Linked DNA regions of Homo sapiens. The protein of the gene in region 1 purifies or fractionates together with the protein of each later gene. This does not show direct contact. Each region holds a gene or a part of one and is shown on either strand. Other genes may lie near its edges.

Region 1 (2,409 bases):
GCTGAAGCACCTGGTAGACAGGTACAATCTCTACTACGCCTACCTGCCGGCCAAGCTGGACAAGAAGATCCACTCGGGGGCTGTGAACCAGGTGGTGGCCGCGCCCATCCTCTGCCTCTTCTGGCTGCTCTTCTTTTCCACCATGCGCACGGGTGAGGGATCCCTACCCAGGGAACGGGGGGTGGCGAGCAGAGTGGATTCCAGCCAGAGCAGGCCACAGGAGAAGCCGCATGGCTGGGGGTGGCAGGCAAGGGGCCTGGGAGAGGCTGGGGCCAGTCTGTAGCACCTGGGAGAGTGAGGACTGCATTCAGAGGGTATCAGAAGCTGGGGTGGGGAGGCCCACAGGAGATAGCAACCCCATTCTTTGCCCCCCAACACCAGGGTTCCTAGCTCCCACGTCTATGTTCACATTTGTGGTCCTGGTCATCACCATCGTCATCTGTCTCTGCCACGTCTGCTTTGGACACTTCAAATACCTCAGTGCCCACAACTACAAGGTGTGGGGCAAGGGTGGCAGGCGGATGGCTGCGGGCAGGAGCTCAAGGGGAGGAATGCAGAGGGCCACAGGGCTGGCGAGGGCTGAGGGCAGCGCCAACAGGGCCAAGCGGGCGTGGGGTCATGATCAGGGCTGAGGACATGCCCCCACTTCCTGACTCATTCTGGGCCCCTCAAGATTGAGCACACGGAGACAGATACTGTGGACCCCAGAAGCAATGGACGGCCCCCCACTGCTGCTGCTGTCCCCAAATCTGCGGTGAGTGCCCTCAAGGGTTGGGAGGGGCCTCTGACAGACTCAGCCTCAAAGCCCAGTGTTCCCTTAGTCCTGCAGAAAGGGGAACCTGTGCCAGACCCCATGGGGGCGGGAAGAGAGCTGGTCTCCCTGGAGGGCTGCCCCCGCCCCCCAGGGCCCTGCCCACTCTGCTGTCCTACATGCCCTGGTGTTCCCGCAATCCATGAGGGGCAGCTGTTCACCTTGCCCCCATTTCCTCTCCTCCTTCAGAAATACATCGCTCAGGTGCTGCAGGACTCAGAGGTGGACGGGGATGGGGATGGGGCTCCTGGGAGCTCAGGGGATGAGCCCCCATCATCCTCATCCCAAGATGAGGAGTTGCTGATGCCACCCGACGCCCTCACGGACACAGACTTCCAGTCTTGCGAGGACAGCCTCATAGAGAATGAGATTCACCAGTAAGGGGAGGGAGGGGCCCTGGAGGCCACATCCTGCCCCACCCCACCCCCACTCCCACGGACACTAAAACGCTAATAATTTATTAGATCTAAAGCCCCTTCCTCCCCAGCCCCTGCTTTCATTAAGGTATTTAAACTTGGGGGTTTCACTGCTCTCCCCCATGATGGAGGGAGGGAGCCCCCCAACCTCAGTGAGGAGAGCCCCGAGCCGGCCCCGGGGCAAAGAGGGGTGCAGAGGGAGTTCCCCCAGATCAGTACCCCCCACCCCTCCCCAGCTAGTAGCATGACCAGGAGAGGGTTAATGAGAGCCAAGAGGAGTACCTGGTGCACCTGGTGCCGGTGGCTGGAGACCTGGGGGGCAGGTGGATCTGGGGCTGTTCCCCCCCCTCCGTTTTTTCCACCCCACAGTTCCTCCTGGGATCTGGCCCTCCAGGGAAGTGGAGCCTCCAGCCCCTAGGGGATGCATGAGGGGGGAGGGGGTGCTGAGTGGGAGGAAGAGTCAGGCTCACAGCTGGGGTGGCCTGGGGGTGGGGGTGGGCAAGGCTGACACTGGAAAATGGGTTTTTGCACTGTTTTTTTTTTGGTTTTTTTGTTCTTTTTTGTTTTTTTCCTTTAAAATAAAAACAAAGAAAAGCTCTGAGGCAGGTGTCTGACTTGTGCTGCCCTGGGCACCTGGGCCGGGTCCCCACCCTCCTATCTGGAGGGCCTCTTTGAGGTCCCTGCATGACGCTGGGCAAGGGACTTGTTCAGAGTCTCATTTCTGTGTCACTGAGAGGAGAGAGTGGGGCTGGGGAGAGACTTAAGGGATATCTCAGAGGCAGGAAGGGCCCCTGTGCCCAGGTGGCCACCATACCAGCCTCGCCCACTCTGATCATTCCCCTGAGTCCCTGAGCAACACACATGGGACAGAGATTCAGGGAGAAAAGGTCGTGCAAAGCCACAGGGTCCATGCTGGGCCAGGACGAAGGCCCTTCTGAGCACCTCAAAGTAAGCCTGGCGCCAGCCCATCTGTCCCTTCCCCAGGAGGGCCTGATCTCCTCAATGAGAAGCCCCCTCCCACCCTCCAGTCAAATCTTACCCATTCTCCAAGACCCAGCTCAAATTCACCTTCTCGCCAGGCGCGGTGGCTCACGCCTGTAATCCCAGTACTTTGGGAGGCCAAGGTGGGTGGATCACTTGAGTTCAGGAGTTCGAGACCAGCCTGGCCAACATGATGAAACC
Region 2 (3,676 bases), on another chromosome or scaffold:
GCTGCAGGGATAGGAACAGCCCCATCCAGGTGGGCGTCCTCTTCAGCCTTTAAGTCAGAAACAACATGATGTTTGTTTTTTGCTTATTCAAAAAACAGTCATTTAAAACGAGACCCAAAAACCCAGCAGAACAACTTTCTCCATCATTAGCCCTAGTATGGCTGCAAATTGAAACATCATATACTTTGGAGCTGATACAAATGATTCCTAAAAGAACCTGGATTAATAAATTTACATTACCTTTCCTTTTGCTAAAAGCTGAAATTTAAACTGAGACGCATGTTGTATATGAGAAGAGAGAGCACATAATGATAGAATTAAGATTTGATTTGTTGATTCACTACTGGGATCAACAAACCAGGACTTTAACTCAATCTGATAATTTTCTCTGCACTATAACTAATGGAGAAAGAAACAAAGAAAATCTCATAAATTAGTTTATGCCTGGAATTCAGCAAAAAGAAGCTAGTGAAGTAATGAGGTTGGTTCACATTCAGTCTCCTATAATCTCCCACATCTTGCAAAAATCCTAGTAGCCACTTAGAACAATGACCTTGTGACAAAGCAGTCCAATTTCTAAAGATACATGTGTACATATTTATATACAATAATGGGGGACTATGTATGTATGTTTCAACAAGGTTTTGACAACAAAAAAAGGTAAGGGAGGAAAGTAAAGTAAGTCCTCATTTAACATCATTGAAAGGTTCTTGGAAACTGTGACTTCAAGTGGCATGACCTTCTCAAGTAATGTCATTTCCTTCAACATCATTTTGTTATAACATTTATGTGGAGAAAAAATTGGTTTTGTTATGGTTGGTTTAAAATTGAAAATTGAAATTTAAGTGTCATTTCACTTAGTTTCCAAGAACCTAAAGACAACATTAAGTAAGGACTCACTGTATTTCAGATTAACCCTGAGTTATCCAGAAAATTAAAATCCCAAATATTCCATGCCCAAAGGACATAACTACATTTTGAATCCTAATTCCTAACAGTAAAACATCCACAGAGAGCATTCCACAGTATCCAATATAGAACTAGAAAATAACTGCCAGTGAGTTAGCTCTGCAGACCATGTAAGATCTTTGCCACTGAAGCAATTTTAACAAGAAAAACAACAGAGCAGGAGTTCCATAGCACACAATGTGGAAGGAAAAGACAGACTGATGACTGGTGGGGAGAAGAGGGTAGAACAAAGCACAGGAGACCAAAGGAGGTATGAGGGCTGGGCCAGAGTGAGCTGGGGTGAGGAGTCTGGAAGGGGAGTGTGAGTGTGAGGACCCAGGAGCACTGCAGAGGGGGCAGCAGGGGCTTGCAGTAAGGAAGGAGGGAGTGCAAAATGATGAAGTACTGTCATATGGAGAATGACATGGCTTGGATGTGTGTCCCCACCCAAATTGCACATTGAAATGTAATCCTCAGTGCTGGAGGTGAGGCCTAGTGGGAGGTGACTGGATCGCGGGGATAGACTTCTCGTGAATGGTTTGTTTAGCACCATCCTCCTTGATGCTGTCCTCACAATAGTGAGTTCTGGTTGTTTTAAAGTGTGTAGCACCTCCCCTCCCCACTCTCTTGCTCCTGACTTTCACCATCTGAGACGCCTGCTCCGGCTTTGCCTTCCATCATGATTAGAAGCTTCCTGAGGTCTCCCCAGAAGCAGATGCCGCTATGTTTCCTGTATAGCCTGTAGACCTGTGAGCCAATTAAACCTCTTTTCTTAAAAATTACCCACTCTCAGGTATTTCTTTACAGCAATGTGAGAACAGACTAATATAGAGACGTTAATAAAAAATGTAGAGACTGCTCAAAACCTTTTGCATTCTACCCAGAAAGGACTCTTTTTTTTTGAGACGGAGTCTTGCTCTGTAGCCCAGGCTAGAGTGCAGTGGCGCCATCTCGGCTCACTACAACCTTCACCTCCCACGTTCAAGCAATTCTCCTGCCTCAGCCTCCCAAGGAGTTGTGACTACAGGTGCCCGCCACCATGTCCGGCTAATTTTTTGTATTTTTTTTTTTTTTTTTTTTTTTTGAGACGGAGTCTCGCTCTGTCGCCCAGGCTGGAGTGCAGTGGCGGGATCTCGGCTCACTGCAAGCTCCGCCTCCCGGGTTCACGCCATTCTCCTGCCTCAGCCTCCCAAGTAGCTGGGACTACAGGCGCCGGCCACTACGCCCGGCTAATTTTTTGTATTTTTAGTAGAGACGGGGTTTCACCGTTTTAGCCGAGATGGTCTCGATCTCCTGACCTCGTGATCCGCCCGCCTCGGCCTCCCAAAGTGCTGGGATTACAGGCGTGAGCCACCGCGCCCGGCCTAATTTTTTGTATTTTTAGTAGAGGCAGCGTTTCACCATTTTGGCCAGGCTGGTCTCAAACTCCTGACCTCGAGTGATCCACCCACCTCGGCCTCCCAAAGTGCTGAGATTACAGGTGTGAGCCACCGTGCCCAGCCTAGAGTTGCCTTTTTCTAGAGCTATTTAAATTGCCTAACAATATCATATATTTGCAAACTTAAGCCCTTTTTGGGTGGGCTGGGGGTGGTAAGCTCATGCCTGTAATCCCAGCACTTTGGGAGGCCGAGGAGGGTAGATCACTTGAAATCAGGAGTTCTAGACCAGCCTGTCCAATGCGGTGAAACCCAATCTCCACTAAAAATACAAAAAATTAGCTGGGCATGGTGGCAGGTGCCTGTAGTCCCAGCTACTCGGGAGGCTGAGGCAGGAGAATCGCCTGAACCCAGTAAGCGAGGTTGCAGTGAGCTAAGATCACACCACCACACTCCAGCCTGGGCAACGAAGTGAGACTCCATCTCAAAAAAAAACAAAAAAAACAAAACAAAACAAAACAAAAAAAAACAACCAAAGAGCAACTCCAGAAACAACAAACTGACATGATCCAGCCTTTAATTATGTACTGTGAATTCCTAAGCAGGCAACTCACTAAGTCACTGCAACTTCTATCCCCTATCAAACCAGGGCACTTATTTTACAAAATGCTCAGAGCATGTCCTAAATCTCCAGGTACCCTCATTTCTAAGACACTTGGGAATTTAAGACAGAAATGTCCCAACCTGTTTCCTCAAAAGACTGACATCCTGCTGGCACTCCTCTTCTTCCCAATGTGTCTGCAGATACTCTTTAACATTTTCTTCGATGTAAGGAAATAAAATGTCCTGGATAAAAGAGTAAAAGAAAATACAAGAGTTAGCTTTTATCAGTTGTAAAAGATCCAGTTCTTCCACAATCTTACCTACATAACTGTAACAAATAAATCAATGGAACTCTATGAAAATTGCTGCTGTGAATATGAGCAAGAAAGAGAGACAGAGGCCAAGAAACAAATAAACTAGACCAAGAGTCGGCAAACTACAACCTGCAGGCCAAATCAAGTCCACTGCCTATTTCTGTAAATGAAGTTTTATTGGAACATAGCCACACTCATTTATTTAAATAATGTCTGTGGCTACTTTTGCATCACAATGGCAGAATTCAGTATTTGCAACCAAGACCATAGGGCCTGCAAAGCCTAAAATATTCACTGTCTGGTCCTTTACAGGAAAAGTCTCCCAACTACAGAACTAGATGGCCAGACCAAAGGTCCTTGAGGATATGGATTAAATGTGTCTTGCTCACAGCTTTATCCCCCATGCATACCACATTATTGTACATATCACTCAAA

The links. The genes of interacting proteins can lie anywhere in the genome.
Region 2: the proteins of TMEM63B (region 1) and ENOPH1 purify together in Homo sapiens (affinity purification with mass spectrometry; one large-scale study listed by BioGRID and IntAct). This does not show direct contact.

The regions. Positions count from the first base shown.
Region 1 is NC_000006.12:44,153,692-44,156,100, forward strand, and holds the end of TMEM63B (mechanosensitive cation channel TMEM63B), read left to right. Parts: coding exon 1-152; exon of another isoform or gene 153-286; intron 287-381; coding exon 382-497; intron 498-673; coding exon 674-754; intron 755-1,000; coding exon 1,001-1,192; 3' UTR 1,193-1,828; downstream 1,829-2,409. UniProt on the Homo sapiens protein: Mechanosensitive cation channel with low conductance and high activation threshold. Osmosensitive cation channel preferentially activated by hypotonic stress.
Region 2 is NC_000004.12:82,447,414-82,451,089, reverse strand, and holds part of ENOPH1 (enolase-phosphatase E1), read right to left. Parts: intron 3,171-3,676; coding exon 3,069-3,170; intron 48-3,068; coding exon 1-47. UniProt on the Homo sapiens protein: Bifunctional enzyme that catalyzes the enolization of 2,3-diketo-5-methylthiopentyl-1-phosphate (DK-MTP-1-P) into the intermediate 2-hydroxy-3-keto-5-methylthiopentenyl-1-phosphate (HK-MTPenyl-1-P), which is then dephosphorylated to form the acireductone 1,2-dihydroxy-3-keto-5-methylthiopentene (DHK-MTPene).